5 separate regions of the Homo sapiens genome follow, and regions 2, 3, 4 and 5 are each linked to region 1. The links come from fine-mapping of genetic effects on gene expression. A gene starts in region 1. Each other region holds a variant in brackets. All regions are shown on one strand. Distances are from middle to middle.

What was found.
Region 2: its variant is fine-mapped to the expression of NEMP2 in monocytes after Pam3CSK4 (Quach 2016, PIP 0.95). The same link has a PIP of 0.9 or more in monocytes after LPS.
Region 3: its variant is fine-mapped to the expression of NEMP2 in T cells (TOPMed, PIP 0.98).
Region 4: its variant is fine-mapped to the expression of NEMP2 in testis (GTEx, PIP above 0.99). The same link has a PIP of 0.9 or more in sun-exposed skin.
Region 5: its variant is fine-mapped to the expression of NEMP2 in whole blood (TOPMed, PIP above 0.99).

The regions. Positions count from the first base shown.
Region 1 is chr2:190,532,286-190,537,390 of GRCh38, forward strand. NEMP2 (nuclear envelope integral membrane protein 2) reads right to left here and starts at 2,437. Exons shown (of 9, transcript NM_001142645.2): 1 at 2,274-2,437. The coding sequence starts at 2,370. It overlaps NEMP2-DT (NEMP2 divergent transcript), which reads left to right and starts at 2,553. Exons shown (of 5, transcript NR_183903.1): 1 at 2,553-2,836. RefSeq lists a silencer at 2,101-2,750.
Region 2 is chr2:190,633,600-190,638,704 of GRCh38, forward strand. It overlaps NEMP2-DT (NEMP2 divergent transcript), which reads left to right. Exons shown (of 5, transcript NR_183903.1): 5 at 4,747-5,105. It also overlaps a transcript of NEMP2 not described here. Among named protein-coding and RNA genes, the nearest start is that of NAB1, 13 kb to the right of the region's middle. RefSeq lists enhancers at 3,584-4,318, 3,854-3,923. The variant A/T (reference allele first, on the strand shown) is at 2,393.
Region 3 is chr2:190,460,792-190,465,896 of GRCh38, forward strand. All of the region lies in intron 3 of MFSD6 (major facilitator superfamily domain containing 6), which reads left to right. It also overlaps a transcript of NEMP2 not described here. Among named protein-coding and RNA genes, the nearest start is that of MFSD6, 55 kb to the left of the region's middle. The variant A/G (reference allele first, on the strand shown) is at 2,523.
Region 4 is chr2:190,564,508-190,569,612 of GRCh38, forward strand. It overlaps NEMP2-DT (NEMP2 divergent transcript), which reads left to right. Exons shown (of 5, transcript NR_183903.1): 2 at 3,566-3,768. It also overlaps a transcript of NEMP2 not described here. Among named protein-coding and RNA genes, the nearest start is that of NEMP2-DT, 32 kb to the left of the region's middle. The variant G/A (reference allele first, on the strand shown) is at 2,906.
Region 5 is chr2:190,596,760-190,601,864 of GRCh38, forward strand. The region is part of intron 4 of NEMP2-DT (NEMP2 divergent transcript); the gene reads left to right. It also overlaps a transcript of NEMP2 not described here. Among named protein-coding and RNA genes, the nearest start is that of NAB1, 50 kb to the right of the region's middle. The variant A/C (reference allele first, on the strand shown) is at 2,922.

The sequences.
Region 1 (5,105 bases):
CATCTTTTTCTTTCTCCAAGAATATGAGAATGAAACTGGAATTAGTATATACTCATGCACACTCAGGTCTTTAACTTCAAGTTCAAATCTTCACAGATGAATCTTAAAGCTGTGGTGTCAAATGGACTGTTATAGTTTAAGCCTGGAAAGCCACTGACAGGGCCTGAACTTCATCTCAGGACAACACATGGTTTCTAGGGACCTCACTAACTGGGTGAAAATTATGGGAAACTCTTGAAGTTTCTCCTCTCAGTCAGACAACTACCTGCTCCTCCTGTGTCAACTGTCTCTGACTTTCCTCCAAATAGAGTGACAGAAAGCTGGGGTTGGTCTGAATGTTCTCCATTCCATTGAAGTGTGTGTTATTCAAGACAAAATTTTAGAACAGGAAGGCACCTTAGGTATCACTAATCCAAGCCCCTCGCTTAAAGGAAGTACCAGCTGTTTCCTCTCAGGGTCCTCAAGAAACCATAGACTTTTAAAGAGCAGCTATGGTTCTTAAGCCTAGTCTAATCCAGGGCTGCCAACAGTGTCACTGGCACACTACCAGATGCTGGGCGCTTCACAGTCCGTATTGGAAAGCCTACCGGAATGGCAGGCATCCCTCTAAGGCTACAAAAGTTGCCATTCTTCTTAGCTGTGGACTAGTTTTATCAAGTCAGTGGGCATCCTGCATGTCTCAGGCAGAACAGAAGCTCCAATAAGTATTTATGTGTGTCTTTGATTAACAAAGCAGAGAAGCAGGCTGTTACTATTATACTAAATGCGGTAACATAAAAACTTTAAAAACACCAGGTTCACTGAGGTGAGGAAAATACTGGAAACTCTTCAGTAAAAACATCTTCATTTTACTCAAGAGAAAACTACGGTCCATAAAGACTCTGTGCCTGGACCAAGGTTATACCACAAGTTGTGGCTGAAGGAATGAGTGGTCTAGAACCCAAGGTGCTGGGTGCTGGTCTAAGGCTACTTCTAATTTTCTCGCTGTTGCCATGCCCAGAAACCTTCCTGCTTAGACAGATTTGTGTTTTATTTTTTCACCAGCATAAAATTGTTGTATTTCTTACTACCAAACCTTCGTTTTCTCATCTGTAAAATGGGTATAAAATGGTGCTTTCCCGCATAGGGCTTCTATGGGTATTAAATATGATAGATACTGCAGTTAAAGCACTTATAACACTGCCTAGCACATACTGAACACTCAAAAAATTTCTCTTCAATGAAAACTGGAATCCAACACTTCCCCAACATATAACTCACTGCAAGATTCCCTCAGTTGGGAGCTGTGGCAGAATCTGATAATGACCTCATCAACATCCAGTCTCTCATTCATCCTTAGATAAAAAACCGCGGTATAACCGGAGGGAGGGCCATGCCCAGCTAAAAGAATACACTTGGCAGCCTCCCTTGAAACCAGGGTAGCCAAAGCAAGGAAGGGAAGTTGGTAGACAGTGCACCCAGGAAATCTTTTAAAAGATTTTATGAGGGGAAAAAAAAAAAGAAACAGAAATGTGAAGCTCATGGTAAGTTAGCGGCAGGTCTGGAGTTGGAACTCTAGGTTTCTGACTTCCCCAGGTGTCCTTCCCAGATCCTTCCCCAGTGTGCCAGCATCTTAAGCCCACTCCGTGGCGAGCCCCTACAGCTAGCAGCCGCTACCAGTTCTTGCTTCCTGTGTGCCAGGCATTGTGCACACGAACACCACAAGAACCTTGTGAGGCCTCATTACCTGCCGCTCACGTGGGACCGTTATGTTTACTCGCTCAAGGTCACAACAGTCAGGGGCAGAAGAATTTTCGCTCCGATTCTGAAGCTGAAGCTGTTACCTTCTCTAGTCTTGAGACCAAAGGAATGCGAGATAGTGAAATAACAAGGATTTCAACACGCATTGATGTACTGTACAAAAGGCCGTGTGCTGAAAGTCTGGAGACTAGGGTCAGCTGTGCCAGTGACAAGCTGTGTGACCCTGGGCAAATCAAAACCTCTCTGAGTTTCGGTTGCTTCTGTAAAACGAGGGAATTGGGCGACTGGATCGCGCGGTTGCTTCTAATTCTAAAATTACAAAATGTCCAACTGCCAGGCGAGAGACTACGGAAGCCCAGTAAGACAGGAAGGGCGGGCGGGGCCTGCCCGGGAGACCCCAAAGCGAGAAAAGGGAGCGCCCGCCCCAGTGGGCCTCGCGGTGCCGCCCGGGCCAAAGAGCGCGCCCTCAGGGCAGCCGCGAAGCCGGGGAGCGAGCACGCACGCGCGCGCCGCCGCCGCCGGTCCCGGGTTACCTGATAACGCTGCCGCCGCCGCCTCCCCGCGCACGGGCAGTGTGGCCAGGGGCGGCAGCCAGAGCAGCAGCCACCACCGCCCTTGGCGCGGCCCCATTTCGTTAGGGGTCAGCTCCGTGCGACCCGAGCCCTAGGGGACCGGCTCCGCTGCGAGGAGCGGAAGTGGCGCGGGGGCTCAGAGAAGGCGGAGGGGGCGGTGAGGCCCGAACGCGGGAAAGGCGGAGACCCCGCCTCCCCGGGGCGGAGGGAGAGTTGGGCTCGTTGCTCCAGCCTCCGCCCGCGGCCTCGGGGCACGGCGGGCCCAGGCCGGAGGAGCTTTCGGTGGCGCGACCCCGCTGGCATGCTCCCGGCCTCGGCCTCGGCCTCGGCCTTGGCCTCCGGGCCTCCAGCGCACGCGGGGCGTCCAGGGCCTCATCTTCCCCTGGGGACCGCCCGGCCGTGTCCCGCTGCCCTCGGCGCAGGGGTGGGAGTTGCAGAGAGGAAGAGTCGCTAACCCGGAGTGTTTCTTAAAACTTGGCTGACCTGTGACCTGCGGATTTGGAGGCTGAATTCTCCGAGCACCTGTGAGTGACAGCCCGTGAATGGGAAGGTCCTTCGGCAAACGCCCTTTTTGTGAATAAAATACATAAAAGCCAGTTTCTTTATTTTACCTTTCTGTTTATCTTTTTACTTTCATTTGGTAACAAGCAATAACAAATTGGAAATTTGGCCGCTTAAGTAACACTGACTTGTATGTCTAATCTCGGACACGGCATTTCAGAGTACAGAGGGGCTCGTAAAATGTTCCTTCACCAACATGACAAGGTTCTCTTAAAATTACCTTATGTTAAAAAAAAGTTTCTTAATGTAATAGATATATTTTTAAATTAACATATAACCTGAATGATCTTAATACTGATAATTAGGAGATATACATATATTTTAAAGAACATTCCCTCCACAGGACCTGGAACCCATTAATTTGACTCAATATTCCATACTTAACTAGGACAGTCTTCTCTAATTCTGGTCTTTTGGTGAGATATCTTAGAGAACCCAAAGTAACAGAAATTATCCTGTTAAAAATAGATAAGCCTCATTTTTCCTAAAAGTCTGAGTAGGATGGACTAGGCTTTCCTTGCCCTCAAAGAAAGGTTTAACCAACTGCCCTTAAGCACTTGGCACCATGTGTACACCATGTATGGCTTTTAAAAAGTTAAGAAATTTCCTTGTAAGGGACTCTTCAGAGGGATGGTTTTTAAAAATAAACCATCATTACTTGAGTGAAGCCTGTCTTCAGAGAAACAGCAGAGCCCTGATCCAATTCTTTCCTGTATTCCCAGGTGCGGTGTGCACTTGCTTCTTGCAAGACAGCTTTTGTACCTAACCACATTCATTTTGATTTGGTTTAATTTTGGATGGCACTATGGAAAGTAGCTAAAATAAACAGGTGGGTTGTTGAATGATGAATGTATTTTCTACAGATATATCTGGTGGAGAAACAAAAGGGCAGGCAGCAATGTACTAAATATTTAAAGTGCTATTTATATCACAGATCCTTAGTAAATATCTGTAAAGAAGCTATATTGAAACACCACATTTTTCTCTATAAGCAATAAATATTTTTCCGGAGATAACAAGAATGTTAGGAGGTGATAGTTCTGTCACTGGGGGACAATCATGAAATTCCACTTAACCTCTCCAAACTTTTCTTCTGTATGAAAACCTTATCCACTGGGGGAAGGGCAGGAAGCTTTACCACCAACAGGATCCTGGCAAAGACCCCCTGCTTCTGGAGAAGAGATAGAAGCACAAACCTTCTGCCCTTTGGGGAGCAGCAGGAGCAGGAAACACTAGGGCTCTGTGTCCTGAACCAATAGAAAATTGAAGTTGGCTACTGCTGGGAAACCCTCTCTCACTCAAGACTCACCACAGATAAAGGAAGGATTTGGCTGCAATGGGAAAGTGTCAGGAATACTGGGAAAGCCCCACATCTAAGGTTCAGGTGCACAGGGCCTGCCTAAAACCAAGGCAGGACCAGGAGTGTGAAAAACCCCTTTTCCCCACTACAAGCCAAGCACCAGTGACAACACCAGTCAACTAGTGAGGAGGAAAAAGAGTGGGGAGAGACCTCTCTGTAACACAGGCATGCAAACACTGCTAAAAGCTGAGTGAGGGACACTGAGAAAAACTCCCCAGCACTCTAGGTTCCACACTAAAACAATGCAATAGTAACCCCCTGCTAGAGGAATCTGAATGAAGCCTGTGGTACAGAGTGAAGGCAAGGATAACAACAACAAAACCCAAATTCAGCACAACTCCTGACTAGATTGACTCAACTACCCACATTATTGACTGGACAGAAGAGGCATGTTTATTTCTGGACATTAATATTATTTACCTCAGTTGTTACTATTCTCCTACATGTGATATCCATCATTTGATCAAAAATTAAAAGACACCCAAAAAAGCAGAGAGGAGAAAAAATCAAGAGGTAAAACAGAACCAGATTCAGAAATGACCCATATATTGGGCTAGAATTAATATGCTTATAAAGCTAGTGGAAAAGGTGAACAATATGCATGAATATATATAGAGAATTTCAGCAGAAAGAGGAAAATTACTTAAAAAGTGAAATGGAAAGGCTAGAAATTAAAAACACCGTATCAGAAATGAAGAATTCTTTCAATGGGCTTATCAGCAGACTGGACATAGCTGAGGAAAGAACCGGTGAATTTGAATATAGGTCGATATGGTTTGGCTGTCTCGCCACCCAAATCTCATTTGAATTGTAGTTCCCATAATCCCCACACATCGTGGGAGGGACCCAGTGGGAGGTAACTGAATCATGGG
Region 2 (5,105 bases), 100 kb after region 1:
CACTGCGCCCAGCCCATATTCAACTTTTCATCTCCCATGTCAACTGGTACAATGCCTTCCTTGCAAATAGTATGTACTCAGCAAATGTTTGTTAAAAAACACATGTGTGTACCTAGCAATAGAGAGATAACATATCAATTAACTTGGCCTAGTCAAATTCTTTAACTTTATTAAAATAAAAAATGATAAGGCCAGGTACTGTGGTTCACACCTGTAATCCCAGTGACTCAGGAGACTGATAAAGGAGGATCACCTGAGGCCTGGAATACAAGACCACCCTAAACAACAAAGCAAGACCCTGTCTCCACAACAAATTAAAAAATTAGCCAGGCATGGTGGTCACATGCCTATAGTTGTAGCTATTCGGGAGGCTGAGGCAGGAAAATCGCTTGAACCCAGGAGTTTGAGGTTACAGTGAGCTATGATTGTGCCACTTCACTCCAGCCTGGGCAACAAAGCAAGATTCTGTGTCTTAAAAAAAAGAAAAGTATCAAATGTCTGTTGTAAGACTCCAGGTATTTACTATTTCAAACTTTTCTTAAATTTATTTTTAAAAAGTTCAGATGCATAAAATTATAAATAATAATATAATAAACACCCACATACCCAGCATCCATATTAAGAAACAAAACATTACCAATATAACTGAAGTCCTGTAAATTCCATCCTTAATGCACCCCTTTATGCCTCTACCATAGTTAGGCAAATCCTGAACTTGGGGATTAATCTTTCTAAGCATTTATTTTTATTTTAACCATATTACATATGTATTTATAATGTGTGTTTGTTTAATTATTTAAGAATATTCAATTCTGCTATACAAAATAAGAGAAACAAACACATAGGGAGAAAAAAATGAAACTAAGAATTGAAGCAAGTAGCTTATGAAACAAGCAAAATTCCTACAAAATGTAGTAGTGCATTTGCGTAATGAACATAATTAGAAAGAGATGGAAAGAACAAGAAACACCTAATAGTCATGATACATGTGAGGCCCTGAATCATCCAACTTTCATGACGCACTGAAGATACTTAAGGCATATCAGGCATTCCCTATTCAAAAGGTTTTAATCTGGCCAACCGTTGGCTCCTCATATCCTCTGCAAAAGAAATATAAATAAAATCCATAGCTGTTCATGAGGTTAACTGATGAGCTACTGCTGTCAGCTAGACCCACTCTGCTCCCAAGACTTTAGAGCAACTGTGTGTTTTGACCCTAAACACCCGTCTGTTGGGCTGCTTTGGTTAAATCTCAACTCTGATCTTTGCAAGCAAACACTTGGTTAGGAAGGCTGATGTGGCAGGGAGAGACAGGACTGAGGATTCAGGTGTTGTCATCTTTCCACCCTGCCTCCTGTGACACATCTTAAATGTGTTAACCCCCTCCATGTCTTTCACCTAGCTTCTTATGGTGTGTTTTAAATTGATTTAATAAGCCACGTGATTTGAGGATTTTGTTTTGGTCCATAAGCCTTTCTTGTTCTGTGATCCCTTGAATAGCTTGCCTGTTAGTGTACTTACAGGCTACCATTGCAGCAACAATGGTTGTTGTTTCCCACACAACAATAGCATTTGCAAGTTTTTAACCTAGATAGAAATATATTCTACACATTCATCTGCAATCTTTTTTTTAAGAGACAAGAGTCTTGCTCTGTCACCCAGAATGGAGTGCATTGGTGCAGTCATAGCTCACTGCAGCCTACAACTCTTGGGCTCAAGGAATCCTCCCACCTCAGCCTCCTGAGTAGCTAGGACCATGGGCATGTGCCACCAAGGCTTGGCTAATTTTATTTTTTGTAGAGCAGGGCCTTGCTGTGTTGCCCAGGCTGGTCTCAAACTCTTGGCCTCAAGAAGTCTTCCTGCCTTGGCCTCCCAAAGTGCTCCCAATTTACAGGCATGAGCCACTGCGTCTGGTCTTGCAACTTGATTTTTGGTCAACTTGATCAACATCTTGTTTGTGAGATTCTTCCATGGGAGATATGCATATCTATTTCATTCATTTTCAGAGCTATATTCATTGAATATTTCACAATTTACCCATAAATTCTTCTGTTGATCTAATATACATCATTTCCAATTTTTTCTATGCTGCTGTGAATATTCTTGTATGTATCTCCTTGGGCACAGGTAAGAGAGCTTCTCAGAGACTACACCTAGGAGTGCAATTTCTGGGTCACAGAGTATGCACACCTTTAACTTAACTAAATACCACCAAATTGCTCTCCAAAGTGTTTGTACCAATTTATACTCTTAACAGAAGTAAGTTCCTATGTTGTTTGTTTTTTGAGACAGGCTCTCACTCTGCGGCCCAGGCTGGAGTGCAGGGGCATGATTATAGCTCACGGCAGCCTTGGACTCCAGGCTTAAGCAATCCTCCTACTTCAGCCTCCCC[A/T]CTAGGTGGAACCACAGGCGTGTGCCATCATGCCTGGTTAAGTTTTTATTTTTTGTAGAGACGGGATCTCATTATATTGCTCAGGCTAGTTGCTAACTCCTGGACTCAGGTGATCCTCCTGCCTTGGCCTCCCAAAATATTGGAATTAAAGGCAGTTTCTATGTTCTTAATCCTAGCCAACACTTTGTGCTGTCAGACTTTTAAAATTTTTACTGATCTGATGAATGGATGAGCTCTGCTCACAAAGAATCATCTTATGGCATTTCCTTAGTACTTTAATTATGAGGAAAAAAAATCTGTGCAAATTTTGTGTCAGATTTTTGGATTTTCTCATTCTCTGCTTAAGGCCAAGTAAGGTTTCCTCTTTCTATTTCCATCACTGTCAGCAGCAAAGGAAAAACTTTGCAACAAAACTTGTTATATTTTTTTCAGAAGGATTAAAGTTTGGAAGAATACCATATTGGAGGCTTTAAGTCTCAAAAATATCCCTCTGATTATACAGGGGCATAAGAAAATGAATTTAACTGCATCCATGCAAATCAATCATCACTAAGCGTATGTCGTAATGACGGTAGGTCAGTAGTGGAACAACTATGACTCACAGGCTGAGAATGCCCTCATTTAAGAAATTCTACAAAGTTGCTCCCTACCCCAGAATATCTACCCCAGGGGCTTGTTCCATGTCTCAAATTCAGCTACTAAAGTGCTGAAGTCCAAAATTTTCATATTTAAGAAAACTCCAAAAGAAAACACATCTCAAAAATCATATTTAGTACTTATAAGTCATTAGCACCTTATTTGTCACATCTCTTAAAAACACAAAAGGAATGGGACACAGAACCTGCAAGTGCTAATAAGGCATAAGGTGGAGGCCACCCTCAACTTCTTCCTCCCCCTTTATCCAGAACATTCAGACAGACAAATCTCTGTTCTTAGCATCTTGCTTAAATCTTTTCGATGGCTCCCCAAAAGGGCTAGCAGTGTTCTCCAAGTGTGGTCTAGGGGTCCCTTCTGGCTTCAGATCCTTCACTAAGGTAATCATTTAAAAAGTACAGATTTCCCAAGTGCCAGCCCAGGCCTACTTAATCAGTATGTCTGACAGGGAGATCCTGGAATCTGTTTTCAATAAATAATCCAGCTTGATTTTCTTAAAAATACTTTTTCACAATTGAGAAGTATAGTGTACAGTAAGTACAGAAAGCATAAATGTGCAGTTCAATGATTACAAAGTGAACATCCACATAACCATGGTCCAGAACAAGAAAGAGGGCCTTGCTTGCCAGCACTTCAGAAGCCCCCTTGTTCCCCTTTCAATCATTTCTCTCTTCTCTTAGTTGTATCTACTATTCTCATGTCTGACACTCACAGCTTGATTCTTGCACTCACTGGTGCTGAGAACTACAGCTACAAGATAAAGTCCACACTGCTTAGCGTGTCAGAGGTGGCTCCTGCACAATTTGGTCTCTACAATTTCATCTTCTGCCTCTGCCCTCTTCACATGTAATTCTCAAGTCATTTGGAATCAGTTATGCTTCATTTCACAATAATTTCCCTAAGTTACTGCTCATGTTTATGCTGCCTCACTGCCTCTGTGCTTCTGTACTTGCTGGGGAGTGCCTGCACTTCCTGAGTCTATTAATTTCATCCTTCCAGACCTGTCCAATTGTTGCTTGCTTACAAGGCCTACTGACTTTCACCCCTCTGCCCTACCCAAACCAGAACCATCACTCTTTCTTTGTGTGACTAAGAACATCTTATAATGTGTGCAAGTGCTTGTTTACATGTGTATTCCGCTTTCTAGACCAGGAAATAGGGCAGAGATTTAATTTTCTTGTGCTTATAGGCTTAGTGTGTATCCCTCAGTCAGTGCTTAATTGTTGAACAAGCAAATAGTCTCCAGGTATAAACATCTTAGGAAAAGTAGCACACTGCAACCTTAATACCTCTGGGTATATTTGGATCAGATCACGTTCTTCCTTGTCAGGAAACAAATGCAGACATCAGTAACACACTGGGTGCCCGAGAGGGAGGTGAAAGTAAGTGAAGAAAGAGGGATGAAACACTGCAGGAGCGGGAGCAGGGGAGCTAGTGATGTTGTCTGAAGGGCTGCCAGAGCCTACAGAGCAAGGAGTAATCAGAGTGCTCCCGGCAGCACTGAGCCTTCCCTTCTTTCTCAGAGAGGACTCCCAGTTGTCAGACCACTGTGCTACATGGGGAGCCTGGACTGTTCCAAATTCCTTACATCTTTTCCTGCCTCTGATTGTCCTCACATTGTCCATCTTCTTCTCTGAGTATCCATTCTGCTTGCAAAATGCCACCTTTTAAGTAAGTAACCTGCCTATTTTTGACCCTAGCATCAAAACTCCTATCCATCCACAGTATGTGAGTGGGAGTGGAAGGCGACAATAAGCCACACAGAGGGGCCTTGTGTAACTGCTTGGTGCTCAGAGGATCTGGACAGAAGCATCTGGGCAGCCTGCCACAGGAAACTTCACAGCAATGTCAATAGTCCTGACGAAAACGAACCTTGACTGCTGGGCAAACTGAGAGGGTGGAAGGACAGAAATGAGCATCACTTGAAATCTACTGATGCCGGAAAAGATATTGTAAAGCAAAATTTAAAATCAAAAAGTAGTTAATAAATTTTGGCCCCTTCTACTGTATGGGTCTGAAAGACAGCCATCACTGGTGGTTTGATACCTGGGGAAGGGGT
Region 3 (5,105 bases), 71 kb before region 1:
TTGTCATCCCTGCGAGTGGGAGGACTGAGAGCTAGGCAGTGTTGTGCCAGACAAGGTGACAAGGAAAGATGTTTTATAATAGAATCTTCTTCATATCAGCAATTTTGATGCAGATGTTCCTACTGTGTTACGTAGACTTTCTGATGATCCATGCAGCTCTTGAAGCAAACAAGCACTCTTGTTAAGTCTGACACAGAACACCATTTCTTTGTCCAGGAAGAAAATGATTATGGCAACACTATTTCCTATGTCTTTCTTAACTCTTTGGACAACTAGATGGTTTACCCACACCCAATCTCCCAAGAGTTTCAAAAGAAAGGAATAATTTAAATATGAACTTAGCTAGAATGTTGTATGGTTTTGAAGCCAAAATAGAAACCCAGACAGTGATCCCTTCAGGTTGAGAACCATGGGTCAGACATCACACATCATTTAATGGGTCTGTTTCTACTGCATGAAACACAGTGACTTGATGTCTGTTCATTCTTTGAGAAAGTAGACATGCACTTGGAAAAACATTCAAAAGGTATTTAGTAAAGTCTCTCTCCCACCCCTTGGGCAGTCCCCCAATTCCTCTCCTTAGAGACTATCCATTATATGAGGTTCTAGTGTTGTATCCTTTTAGAGATATTCTGTTCATATGTAAGTATGTAGCTGTATGTGTCACTTCCTTTTTCTGACATAAATATTACAATACTATACTTAATATTCTGCAATGTCTTTTACCTTGCTTTAAATGCCAAACAGTTCTGGAGGCTGGGAAGTGCAAGATCAAAGTGTTGGCAGGTTCGGTGACTGGTAAAGGCCTCGTTCTCTGCCTCCCAGATAGCACCTTGAATGCTGTGTTCTCTCATGGCAGAAGGCAGAAGGGCAAAAGGGGGAAACAGCTCCCTCACACCTCTTTTACCCACTCATGAGGGCTCCACTCTCATGACTTAATCACCTCCTTCATACTATCATCACATTGGTGAATTAGTTTCAACATATGAATTTTGGAGGGTATACAGACATTTAAACTGTAGTATCTACAATCTATGATTTCTACCAGTTTTAATTTTTTTTTTAGTGTGGAACATGAACCTTAATATACTTTCAGAACAATCTGAGAGCAGAAGTCTTTTAATTTAAAAATTTAAAGGTTGCCTTTCCCATGCCTAATTTGACAGTACTTTTTTCCCTACCACTTAAATCTTTATTATTATGTGATTATTAGGAAGTACATAACTCACTATACGAACTCAAAATCTACAGAAATATACTCCTTAGGCGATGAAGGGCCCTATCATCGCAGATTTCCAGGATAATCATTGTTCGTGATTTGCTGTCTGTCTCCTTCTTGGTTTGTTTTTGTATTAATATAATGTGAATATGGATATGAATTGATTCCATATTGAGTACACATACAGACATTTTATGGAGAAATGGGAACAGAATAACCATTGTTTTAAGAGATTTACCTCATGGTTCTCAACAGGAGCCATTTAAAAATGTGCACAGGACAAATTTTAGTGTTTCAGACACTGGCATTTAGCACCCAAGCGTCAGGGATTTTAAACATCCCACAGTGAATGGTGGATCCCACACAATAAAGAATTGCACCATCCAAAATGACAGTAGCTTGTTGAGAAATACTGTTTTCATGAGAGTAATGCTTCCTTTTGCCCTCATATTTTATCAGTTTACATAAGATTATATTAAATGATGTTATGGATTCATGGAGTGCCTGAGCAAGGCAGGCTCTTTTTGAGTACAAAGAGGAAGAAGACATGGCCGTTGTCTCCCAGGGTCTCAGTCTTCAGTGTGCAACAGACTGTGATGAGTCCTCTAATGGAAACAAAGAGTGTAGCAGAGGAACAGCGGGGGACAGGAGGACTAATTATACCTGGAGACATCTTGGGAGGCTTCTTGGAAGGGATGATTCCTTTCAACAGTGGGACTCTCAAAATCAGAGGTACCAGTGCCCCAAGTCATATCTTGGAAAAAGGGAGAGAGATACTGTCAGCCCTGCTACTTCTAGATAAGCACTTGGTCTGAACATGAGCTGTAGCAGCTCCTGCCTGTTGCTCAGGTCACTGATTCTGTGGCCTTGTCTCCTCTCCTCTCTGGCCACTCTTACCACCATTCTAGCACTAGAGGAGGGTACCATGATGTAACTCAGGCCACCTTCTTGGGATGGGAATCCCAAGGAATGCCAGCTGTGGTTCTTTCAAACCAGCCAGTCCTGGAGTGGGACACAGGATGCAGGAGATGCCATGGAGAGGACAAAAAAAGGGGAGAGAAGACAAGAGATTCCAGACAGTTACAGCAAAACCCTATTCTGCTAGTGAGGGACACAGAAATCCTGGCAAGATATCCACAGTAGCATATCATGGAAGATAGCTGGGAGGAGGGGGACAGTTATGAGAAAACAAATTTTCTAGACTAAGATTTAATTCTTTCAAGGCCTATCCTTTATATTTTAGTTATTTTCTAAAGAGTTTGGATATATATTTTCTTACTCTCTTAAACTGACAATAGAGAAC[A/G]TCATCTTATTCAGGTCAATAGTGTGAATCAGTGATTATGTAGAAATAAGCTTCATTCCTGGGGAGGAGGGCACATCAAGTGCTTGTGCTGAGCACAGGAGTCTCCACTCTAATCAGCAGCTGATGTCTGCCACTCTGCCTACTCTAGGAAGACATCTATAACAATTCTGAAAAAAAAATTTTTTTTAGGGACAAGTTTATATAGACCATAAAAGGATAATCTGGGGCCAGGTGGATGGCTCATGCCTATAATCCCAGCAACTTTGGGAGGCTGAGATAGGAGGATTGCTTGAGCCCAGGAGTTCATGACCAGCCTGGGCAACATAGTGAGACTTTGTGTCTACTAAAAATCAAAAGTTAGCTTGGCGTGATGGTGCACACCTGTAGTCCCAGCTACTTGGGGGGCTGAGGTGGGAGGATCACCTGGGCTCTGGTGGTCAAGGCTGCATTGAGCTGTGATGACGCTACTGCACTCCAGCCTGGGTAACAGAGCAAGACCCTGTCTCAAAAATAAATAAATAAATAAAATAAAAATAAAAAGCTGAGAATGATGGAGCCCAATCTAAGGGCGCACCATATACTGTCTACCATACAGAAAACGTAATCCAGTTTATATATGAGGCAGACTGTAGACTGTGCTCCAGGGATCTGGTGTCAACAACCAGCTCTTTTCATTAGGAAATCTAGTAAAAACTCCAGCCAGGTATAGCTGAGGAAATTGCCCAAGTGGTCTGTGACCTGTCTGAAACATTGCTTTTTGAATCTTGGTTTGTTGCTGGTCTGTCTTCATCTCCCACCCTGGCCTCGAGCAACCTTGTATGCATTGGTGTGCGTGCATCTTTGCGTGAGGGCTTGCAACACAAACTGTAGACAAGTGTCAGTCTAACGGCAAATACTGAACTTCCAAGTGATAAAAAACAATCTTCATCTGGGGTCTTTCATTTGTATCCAGTGTATTATTATAATTATTTTGGGAAGTTTTGTTTCTCTGCCAGGGGCTTTGCAAAATGCTTGTTGCCATCAGTCATTAGGTGAATAGGGGTTCTCTGGTGGTGCTGCTCTTTTGCGTCTCAGATCTGGGCATTGTAGAATAACTCCACTTAGGTCTTTCTTTGCTGCTCACACCCTGTGTTGTTTCTGGAATAATATCCAGACTGTATCTGGACTGGAAAAGTTCACTTCTTTCTTCAAAAATCCTTAGACTGTAATCCTTCTTGTGTCTTTCAGTCACCCTGTCTGGCCACAGATGCTTGAGATTCTATGGTGAACCCTTGTTCGCTTTGTTTCCTCTGCCTGTGATGCTCTTTCTGCCCTCTTTGGCCAACCACTTCTAACTCAGGTGGCCTCAACCCCCAGGGTTGGCTAAGGGTCTCTCCTGTGTGGTCCCATTGCACTCTTTGGATATCTCTTAGTATATTATATTTAACTTATTTGTTTATGTGTTTGTCTTCCCAACTAGGCTGTAAGTCCCTTGAAGACCAAGTAGATTTCCTCTTCATTTTTACTCCCCTCACAGTATATGGTAGATAGTGGCATCTTAATAAATGTTTATTGAGCAAAATTTATGTTCACTGTGGTTTTTAGTGGCTTTTGGTGGGGGTGGGGGAGGGTGGATTTAGCCATATTATAGTTGGTTAAATTTAGAAAAGTAGGGTCTCACAACTAACTACACTGTTAGGAATTACAGAATGACTCATAATTCATTGTATCTATATCTTGAACACTCTTGAAAAAAATACCAGTTTTATTATAAGATAACCACAAATCAGCTTAAACTGCTAATACTGTGAATTGTGCTTATATAAGAAATTAGAATCTGTAACAATTTTTTTCTCCTACTCTTGTAGTTTGCTCAAATACAGGATAAAAAACGAGTGGCAGGTGATTTGGGTTTTCCACAGGGTAGTGTTTTCTGCTGCATCATTTGCTTCTTATCAATTGTGTTCCTCTTTATAGATAACTTCAGTTTACCAACCACCTGTTCTAAAATTGCCTTTGTTTCTTGTCTATTTTTATTACTACTGACTTCCTGTTCTGAAATAGGACAGTCATGCTGTTTTTGAGTTTTATCATTATAGGTGTTCAGTAGGTATCTATATCTCGTGGAGAGACTTTTTTTTTCAGTGTCTTGTATTTCCAGACATCAGTGCCCATAAGATTACTGATTATACATCAGTAATCTTATGTATAATCTTATGTAAAAAAATTCTAGGACCCTGAACATATGCTCATATTCAGCATAAAAAAGAATTTGATTGTCTAGAAAATGATCCAGTAAAATATGCTTTAAATTCCTTTATATTAGCAAATCCCTAACTGTATTAGAGTGAATGTGTTCATTTGCTTGGGTTACCACAAAGTACCACGGTCTGGGTGGCTTAAAAAACAGAAGTTTATGGCCGGGCGTGGTGGCTCACGCCTATAATCCCAGCACTTTGGGAGGCCGAGGCAGGTGGATCACTTTAGGTTTGGAGTTCAAGACCAGCCTGGCCAACATAGTGAAACCCCATCTCTACTAAAAATACAAAAATTAGCCGGGCCTGGTAGCATGCACCTGTAATCTCAGCTACTTGGGAGGCTGAG
Region 4 (5,105 bases), 32 kb after region 1:
GCCCTCTTATGTATTTTATCACTTTCTCTCTTGAATCATATTTAATCTTAAAGCTCTTAATGGCTCATAGGACTTTTAAGGCAGATCTATATGATTTAACTTTGTATCCCCACCTAAAGCAAAGCTTCTCACGTAAAAATCTCCACATATAAAAAGGTGCAAGCTGGGTGCAAAAGCAAGAGACAAGTAAGGACCTCTTGGCTCATTCAACTGCCACATGGTGATAGAACTGCCACTAAGTTTCTAGTTGCTGGATTCTCGCTAAAGATGGCAGAATGAACACAGGCATATCTCTTATATCTCTTCTCTCAATAGAGAACAGGAGAGGGGTGATGAGTAGATGAGACATTTCATAAATATTTGTTGGAAAGAGAATGGAGGAAGGTTAACTGATGTAAAAGGAGAGAAAGCCATAGTCTAAAGTGTGTGCAGTGGGGTGTACTGAAGATAAATAAGACATTTCACCTTGAAGACCTGAAGGAAGCTCAAGACTTGGAGTCATCAGTCTTGGCAGAGAGTGGGGGTGAGGTACGGAGTGCAAAGTTTGAGATAAGTTCAAAGCTTATGTATGGAACAGTCAACTACTCTTGTGCCCCAGATACAGAATATCAGCAGCCAAGCTACTCCCTCCTGCTCCAGGAGGAAATACGAATTTTTTTTTTAATCAAGAGACACCCAGTAGGAATGGCCTGAGCATCAGAAAAACCAAGCCTGATAGAAGAAAGAAGGCAGGAGGACCTAAACAATCAAATGAATTGCAAGTCTGCACTGGGAATGGTTGGATTATCTGTGCTCTCTCCCCTCCTACACAATGAAAGCACTATTAATCAGGGAACTAACCCCTAGGCCAATGTTTCTAAATTGTGGGTTATGAACTCAGTTATGATTAGTGGAGTATAAAATCTGTTTAATGGGTCATAACCAACATTTTCTTGGGTTGGGTTCCTTGAGAAGCAGACTTTGAGGTGGAGTTGAGAGTTCAGAACATTTATTAGGGTTTGTCCTTGGGACCAATATCTGTGGAAGGATACAGAATTGGACAAAAAGAGAATGCGAGCTGTGATACAAGACCCAATGATTATTTCACCCAGCCCCACGAGGAGCACTGAAGCTAGACTGGCTTTTCAGAGTTGTCCCACACCAGGCCAAGATGTCCAGGACTTTATTCTCTGTCATAGGCTGAATTGCATCTCCCCAAAATTCATATGTTGAAGTCCCAACACAGAGAACCTCAGAATGTAGCCTTATTTGGAAATATGCTCTTTGAAAGGATGATTAAGTTAAAACAAAGCCATTAGGATAGGGCAGTAATCCAGGAGTATTTGTGTCCTTATAAGAAGAGAAAGACACACAGGGACACCCACATGTACAAAGAACAGTGAGACTTCCAGCCACCAGAACTGTGAGAAAATTAATTTCTGTTGTTTAAGCCACTAAATCTGTGGCATTTTGTTATGGCAGCCCTAGAAAACTAATATCTCCCCCCACCCCCCAACCCTTACTGGATATGGCCACAGGAAGTATGACCCTGGGCAAGGCAGCTCTGCACTGAAGCAATCCCTGAAAAGGCCAACAACTGAAGAGTCCCCACCAGCAGCCATCTCACAGTCTGGGGCAACTAGTCCCTTCATTGCAGTGTATCTAATGGATATATAATGGTCCATCACAAACATGAAAGAAAATAAAATTCAGTAGACTAGATAGAGAATGTCAGAGAGCATTCTATGAAGAGAAAGTAAATATTGTTTCACAAAACATTTTTGTCTTTATAAATATATGTGAGTGTGTTGACTGGGACTTGATGAAAAAGAATTTCTTACTGTCAGGTTTACTGGGCACAGTGGATCATGCCTGTAATCCCAGCACTTTGGGAGGCTGAGGTGGGAGGATCACTTGAGCCCAGGAGTTTGAGACCAGCCTGGGCAGCATGGCAAAATCCTGTCTGTACTAGAAGTACAAAAAATTAGCTGGGTGTGGTGGCTGAGGTGTGAGATCACCTGAACATGGGAGGTCGAGACTGCAGTGAGCTGTGATTGCAACACTGACTCCAGCCTGGGCTACAGGAGTAAGACTCTGTCTTAAAACGGGAAAGAAAAGAAAGAAAATAAAAAAGAAAGGAAGGGGAAGGGAAGGGAGGGGAGGGGAGGGAAAGGGAAGGGAAGAGAAGGGGAGGAAGAAGGAAGGAAGGAGAGAGGAAGGAGGGAAGAAAAGAAAGAAAGAAGGAAAGAAAGAAAAGAAAAAAAAAGAAAGGAAGGAAGGAAAGAAAGATTCAGAAGTCACTCACCTAGGAAATATAGGGGGTTTTTTCCCCAAAAAAGTTAAATATACAACAGATAACAGGTTTTCCATACCATACAAAAGTGAAACCCATCACTCTACAAACACCGTCTACCCACACAGAGCTCTTCGTCAGCTTTTGAGTGCTCTATTCTTAAATATAAGTCGGCAAAAAAATACCATGAGGCATGTAAATCATACCTCTAACCTAAAAGAGAGGAGGAAACATGAAAAACAGAAAATGGAATATAAAGGGAAACTATAGAAAATAGAAAAATACTGTTTAAATGCTAATTTATAGCCTGAAAAATTATGAGATTTGTATCTATAAAATAAAAGCAGAATGCGATGATAAAAGAACAATTAGATAAAAAAGGAAGGAGCTCTTGGAAACTAAAAATATAATTTTAAAAACTTCAGTAGTAGGAGTAGGAGATAAAGTTGAGGAAGTCTGCTGAAAATAGAACCAAAAGATGAGTAGATTAACAATAAGAAAGGAAAGGTATGAGACTTAGACTATCCATCTAGTAGGAACAATATCTGACTACAAGGAGCTCAAGAAAGAGAAGAAATGGAGGAAAAAGTATACAAGAAAAGTTCCCAGAACTGAAGGCTATGTCTAAAAATC[G/A]AAGGTACCAAGTACTCAACACAACAAATAAAAAACGGCCCACACCAAGGCACATCATTGAGATGTGTCAGACCATTGGGAATAATGAGAGAATCCCAAAAGCTTTCAGAAGAAGAAAAAAGAATTAGTCTTATGCTAAGAGTAGGTATCAGAATGCATCAGACTGCTTGCTCAACTACAATATTGGACTAGGGAAAGCAATGAACGATGCCTTAAGAATTATGAGGGATAATTTCATTTATTTATTTATTTATTGAGATGGAGTCTCGCTCTGTCACCAGGCTACAGTGCAGTGGCATGATCTCGACTCACTGCAACCTCTGCCTCTTGGGTTCAAGTTATTCTCCTGCCTCAGCCTCCCAAGTAGCTGGGACTACAGGCATGCACCATCATGCCCAGCTAATTTTTGTATTTTTAGTAGAGACAGGGTTTCACCATGTTGGCCAGGATGGTCTCGATCTCTTGACCTTGCGATTCGCCCGCCTTGGTCCCCCAAAGTGCTGGGATTACAGGTGTGAGCCACTGCATCCAGCCAGGATAATTTCTTTTAAACCTAGAATGCAATACCCAGCTAAACTATCAATGAAGTGTGAGAGCAGAATAAAGATAATTTCAAACAGAGGAATTCAGAAAACTTATGTCTCATGTATCCTTTTACAGGAAGCTACTGCAGGATATAATCTAAGAAAATAAGGGGAAGAAAACAAGAAAGAGGAAGACATTGGATCCAAGAAATGGGGGATCTATCACCTTACAGATGAAAAGAGAATCTACATGATCTTTGTGAAGGTGATTTGAGCATAGCAGCTCTGCAGGAAACCTGGAGAGCAACAAGTGAGATTAATACAGGACACACAGCTCTAGTAAGGATGTCACTAAGGAAATTAAAATCATTTGTTGTAGAATACTTTATGAATCAATGCAGTAAGAGGAGGTTTACACTTCTGGTGAAGAATAGGGAATGAATTTGTGATAGGCATGTAGAAAATTATGCAAACAAATAAAATAATAATCAACTCCTGGGAAAATAGGAATTTGTACCAAAAGTGTCAATATAATCTTATATATATATGCCTCAGTTTTGAATAATATTTGTCATTTTAATTATGTAAAAACTGAATAATTATCGGCCGGGCACAGTGGCTTACGCTTGTAATCCCAGCACTTTGGGAAGCTGAGGCAGGTGGATCACCTGAGGTTAGGAGTTCGAGACCAGCCTGACCAACATGGAGAAACCCCGTCTCTACTAAAAATACAAAATTAGCTGGGCGTGGTGGCGCATGCCTGTAATCCCAGCTACTCTGGAGGCTGGGGCAGGAGAATCGCTTGAACCCAGAAGGCGGAGGTTGCTGTGAGCCGAGATTGCGCCATTGCACTCCAACCTGAGCAACAAGAGCAAAACTCCATCTCAAAACAAAACAAAACAAAACAACAAAAAACTCAATAATTATCAGAGAAAAACACTGTAATATAACTATATTGAAAGAATAAGAAGAGAATGTAAGAGACTAAATCCGTATCTCCCACAGAAGGGAGTCATAGATAATAATATCTGGAACTGAAAAAAAAATCAAGAAACAGCAGTTTAAAATGTGGAGATAAACACCAAAAGAAACAGCTGAGGCCAGGTGTGGTGGCTCACACTGAAAGACTTGAGCAAGTTTGCTTTTGGGAATGGAAATGGAATTAGAACATGCAGGTTGTACAGGGAAAAGGGCTGCTCTTTGTCTTTTAGACTTTGAGGAGCTATTTGGCTTTTAAAGCTCTGTGCATTTATAACTTAGATGGAAAATATAAACAATTTTAGAAAGAAAAATGACAATATATGTATTTTTGAGATATGGAGGCAAACATTCTAAACGCTAAAAAGAGAAAAGCTTGAGAGTGGTTTCTTTTGGGGAGCAGGACAGGAGTTGATTTTCACTGTAATTATTACTAAGCCATTGATTTTATAGAGTTGTGAGGCCATTACCTTGAGACAAATTTTAAATAAAAAAAGGAAAGTCCAGGAAGGAATTCAGGCATGAGGACATTTAAGAACTTTGAATTTTAGCTTTGTTGCTTGTAGTTTCCCAATTTTAAAAATCTTTAACATCTTCCATACCAGGAGATAAGCAGTAAATGAGAGAACACATTTGGAAGCTCTTGGTAGACTGAAAATAACTAAGGGAGGTTCCCTTCTTTCCTCTTACAGATAAAA
Region 5 (5,105 bases), 64 kb after region 1:
GATGTCAGGGGTGCTGCTGTCTCTGGGTAGTAAGAGAAAACAACTAGATTTGGAAATCTGGTATACAAATGCATATAAATATACAAATGACATTTATACATCCCAACATACTCATTCACCCATGAATATATATATTTGGCATCAAGTCACTAAGCATAAAAATGTTGTGGGTGTTTACAACTTTTTAAAAAGGATTATTTGCATTTTCTTTTAAGTTTTCTGGACAGGCACAGTGGCTCACACGTGTATCCCAGCACTTTGGGAAGCTGAGGCAGGGAGATAGCTTGAGCCCAGGAGTTCAGGACTAGCCCGGGCAACATAGGGGCACCCCACCTCTACAAAAAAATTTTTCTAATTAGTTGGGTGTGGTGGTGTGCTCCTGTGGTCCTAGCTACTGAGCAGGCTGAAGTAAGAGGATCGCTTGGGCCCTGGGGAGTTGAGGCTGCAGTGAGCCATGATCATGTCACTGCACGCCAGCCTGGGAAACAGCAAGACTCTGTCTCCAAAAAAAAAAAAAGCTTTCTAATTTCTAAAATAGACTGTGTGAAGAGTTAGGAATTTGGGCTAAGAGATAAAGGGGAGAAAAAAAAAGCCCTGGGAAAAGAATTGGAAAAGTCTGAGTATAAATATAGTTTTTGTACTTTTGGCTGAAGTCTCTTAGAGCTTGTGAATAATAAAGACTACATTACTATCCACAAAATAACTTTCTTGGAAAAAAAATGTTACCTGAAAATTACTTGCTGTGTTGATGAGGGCCTGGAGAATGAGAAGACAAAAAGAGCATCTAACTGAAAGGGGTAGTAGAAAGAATGTCCGTGTAGCAATCAATGTTAAAATGTACAGTAAAAACTTCCAGGACAGAATAAAAACCAAACTGATGGAGGTGCCCAACACAGTAGTTGCGAATCCCAGGCTAAGGCACAGCCACAGTTCTAAAACCTTGGAATAAAAGAAACAGTGCCTCTGATTATTTATCACGATGCTTTCTTCAGAACTTTTATTTGAGGAGATGGGGTGAGCAAAGAATTAAAAAAAAAACAACTCTGAGCATTCTTTGCTCATCCAATTTGAAAGTGGAATTTCTCTACTGGAACTGCTGATTTGTAAGGCCACCAGTTTACATGGGTTTCAAAGGGCTTTAAGAGTTCAGTTATGAAAATATTCTACTTGTTTATGTTCCAATACCATACACACACCTATCCCATTTATACCTCTAGGCTAGTGTTTCTCAGTCTCTGAACTATTGATATTTGGGGACAGATTCCTCTTCATTGTCTTCTTCGTTGTGGGGCCATCCTGTGTATTGTAGGATGTTCAGCAGCATCCCTGACTCCACCAACTAGATGCCGGTAGCACCTTCCCTCTCTCCCTACCGACAACCCCCATAGGACAAACAAAAACATTTCCAGACATTGCCAAATGTTTCCTGGGGAGGGGAGAGCAAAATCACCCCTGGTTGAAAACCACTGTTTAAGGCTGAGATGAAGACCTTTAGTGAGAGGGAAGAGAAGACTCTTGGGAGAATAAGGAAAATGAGGGCTTCCTCCAGAATTCAGATATTTATTCTCCAAATTCTTCTACTTATGGAAGTTACTCAAAGATGCTTACAAGTGTTTTTAGGAAATTGATCTTATTCCAAGGCAAGCCAATATTACAAATATTATTTTAAACTGTAACTTATAATTGCTTTTCTACACTTCTTAATGGATATAAGCCTTTGTCTTAAAGAATGCTATTGATTCATTCATTGTTTTCATAACTTGTGGCGCTGCCAGCCTTCCACTTGGAATGGCATCAAGTCGTGTTTTGCTTTCATCCCCAAAACTTTGCAAACTACTTTGAGGCATTGCTGAAAATACATTTTAGTGGAATAAGTTAGGCTTTACTGCGATTCTCAAATTTAAGAACCCATTTTATCTACTAGCTAGCAAAGCAACCATTTTAAATTGGAATGTAATAGTTACCTAGATCCATGTTGCCATGTTGCTGCACAGACTTAAAATATTTTACTACCAGTGAAATTGTACTTTGCATATAATACTAACCTTGCCAAATAACCTTATGACCAAACCTCATATCTTGAGTGACTAACGTTAATATACCTTAATCTGAAGTTTAAGAGTACTCCCTTATTCAGCATTTACATCTTATCTTGATTTATATTTTTCTCCAAATAATAGAAAAACACTGCAAATGGTGTTTTGTTTTGTTTTTAGTGGCTCTCTAGGCCCCTTTTTCTCAATTTGTTTCAACCAACATTTATCAAACAAGGAGTATGGGCCAGGACTTGTGCCAACTTTAAGCAGATTTTAGTCATAAAATCAGATGTGTTTCTTCTAAAATCATGCTGTAATTTATTCTCCATTATTTTGATATTAGTGAAGGTTAACTACTGCAAAAGTTATCAGTTTCTCCATCTATAAATAGAGGACAGAAATCAGGAAATAGAAGAGAGAAGCTATAAAAGGCAGGCTAGATTTGTACAAAACTACACATCTAGCTTATATGACTCAAAGATGTGGTGAGAATTCTGTTTCCTGTCACTATTTACTACTTGGCATCAAGTAGATGAAAAAAAGCTGAAGCTTTTGGGCTAAACTTTTATTTTCATCTGGATAGATGGCAGGCCTCGAGGAACATCACAGGTAAAACTCTTGAAATGTCTATAACTTCAGATGAGTTATGGACAAAATATATACTTTCTGGCCTATAATTTGTTCACTGTATTTTTCCATATTTGCTACTGATTAGTAATATATTAAGTATCAGTCAGTAGGAATAGTATTAATATTGCCAATGCATTTAAAAATTTTAATTTTAACTATAATTTTTACTTGCTTTTTGATTCTGTGTCTTTTACTTTAGGTGCTGTGCCCCTAGTCAGGAATCGGTTTACTTGGCTGTGTAGGAGTTATGTAAAA[A/C]TTTCCAAATGATATAAGCCAGGTGTTCACAGCTCGCTATGCATCGAAACTACACTGGAAGCTTTCCAAGAGTAGGTGTCTGTTACCTATAGCAGGGATGACAAAGATGGCACGTGGGCCTATTTTCACTGTCCCTTAGGCAAGTCATCTTCACAAACTCACCGACCTTGCAGTGCCCCATCCCCCCATCCCAATCATGTTCCCTCTCCCTCACCTGGGAGGACTATCCTTGGCAAGAGTCAGATCCAATGACCTCTTCCTGCACTGCTGTGAAGAGTTTATGGGAGCACAGCGGCTTTCACACACACTCTCCTGCTGTACAGTGCCATCCTAGCTGCCCCTGTGTGTGTCACTTCCTACATCTCTCACTGGTCTGAGCGGTACAGAGCAACTAGAACCTTAGAAAATTAGTTTTCGAAGGTTTCTTATCTTAGTTCTGTATGTCACAGTACACAACACACTTGCCATCTTAGCAGTGGTATTTTACAAACATTCCCTCTTGCTCTTCCTCTCATTCCTTTTCCTGTTGTTTCTAACTCTCATTGCTTGATTATTGGCTCTTCAAGGAGAAGGAAGAAATAGGTTAAAACCCAACTAGAAGATACTGGGGGAGGAAAGGGGACTCAGTAGAGTAGAGTACAAGGGGAGGGTTATCAGTGTTAGTCTTAGAATGAGGCTAGTGCTGCCAGACTAGAAATTATTTGTCTGGCGTGTGCTATTGTTTGAATGTCATTTGTCTTCGCCAAAACTCATGTTGAAATTTAACCCCCAGTGTGGCCCTGTTGGGAGGTGTGGCATAGTGTGAGGTGTTTGGGTCATGGGTGTGGATTCTTTATGCAGGGAAGAATGCCCTCCTTGGGGTGGGTGAATCCTTGCTTTCCTGGAGAATGGATTAGTTTCTGAGAGACTGGGTTGTTAAAGAGAGTCTGGCTTCCTTGGTTTCTCTTTTGCTTCCTCTCTTGCCATGTGATCTCTTTGCACGTGCCAGCCCCCTTTTCACCTTTTGCCATGAGTTGAAGCAGCCTGAGGCCCTCATCAGATGCAGATGCCCAGTCTTGAACCTTCCAGCCATCAAAATTGTGAGCCAAATAAGCCTCTTTTCTTTATAAATTACCTCAGCCTCAGGTATTCTGTTATAGCAACACAAAACAGACTCAGACAGTGCAGGAATGTGCGGTGGCAGCCATGGCCCAACATGTGGTCAGGTCTTAGTGGTGTGTTCCCCAGCCCTGGCGGCCAGCATCCCTGCCCACTTGTCACACAGTGCTAGTACCTTCCTGAGAAGGCTGCTCAGAAAGCTGAGCAAGTACAAACAATTGATGTGGGTTGAATTGTATCTCCCTAAAATTCATGTTGAAGTCCTAACCCCTAGTACCTCAAAATGTGACCCTATGTGGAAATAGGGTCATGGCAAGTGTAATTAGTTTAAGATGAGGTAATACTGGAGTCAGGTGGGCCTGTCATCCAATATGACAGGTGTCCTTATAAAAAGCAACATTTGGAGACAGTCACATATACAGAGAGAACACTGTGTGAAGATTGGAGTTATGCTGCCACAAGCCAAGGAACCACCAGAAGCTAAGAGAAAGGCCCAGAACGATCCTTCCATAGTGCCTTCGGAGGAAGCATGCCCTGTCTGCACCCTGATCTCAGATTTCTGGCATCCAGAGCTATGAGACCATAGCTTTCTGTTGTTTAAGCCGCTCGCTTTGTGGTGCCTTGTTATGGCCACCCTAGGAAACTAATGCTGTGTAACAATGTGGCAATGGCAGGCCTACGTTGGTCTTGACTCAAAGCTCCTGGAAGGGTGCTGGTTTGATGGTGCTAAGAAATGTGTACTGTCCAAATCCAAACATCTGGAATGAAACCTATGTAAGTTGATAATAGACATATACATATAAGGAAATAAAAATATAATTTCCGAGCAACTCCATGAAAATAATGATTGCTGAAACTACTTGTTATGATACTTAACGCAAATGATAAAAACCTGTGGTCACTGTTGGGCTTCTTATATGCCAAAGAATCTGTTTCTCCAGGTACCAGGGCAATCCCAGGAGCTAAGCACTCCAGGCCATCTCCTTCTATAACTCAGCTCAACCAATGTTTACTAACCTGACCAAGTACTAAGAATTCTAAGCAACGGCAGTAGAAATAAAAAAAATCAGACACAATCCCTGCCAT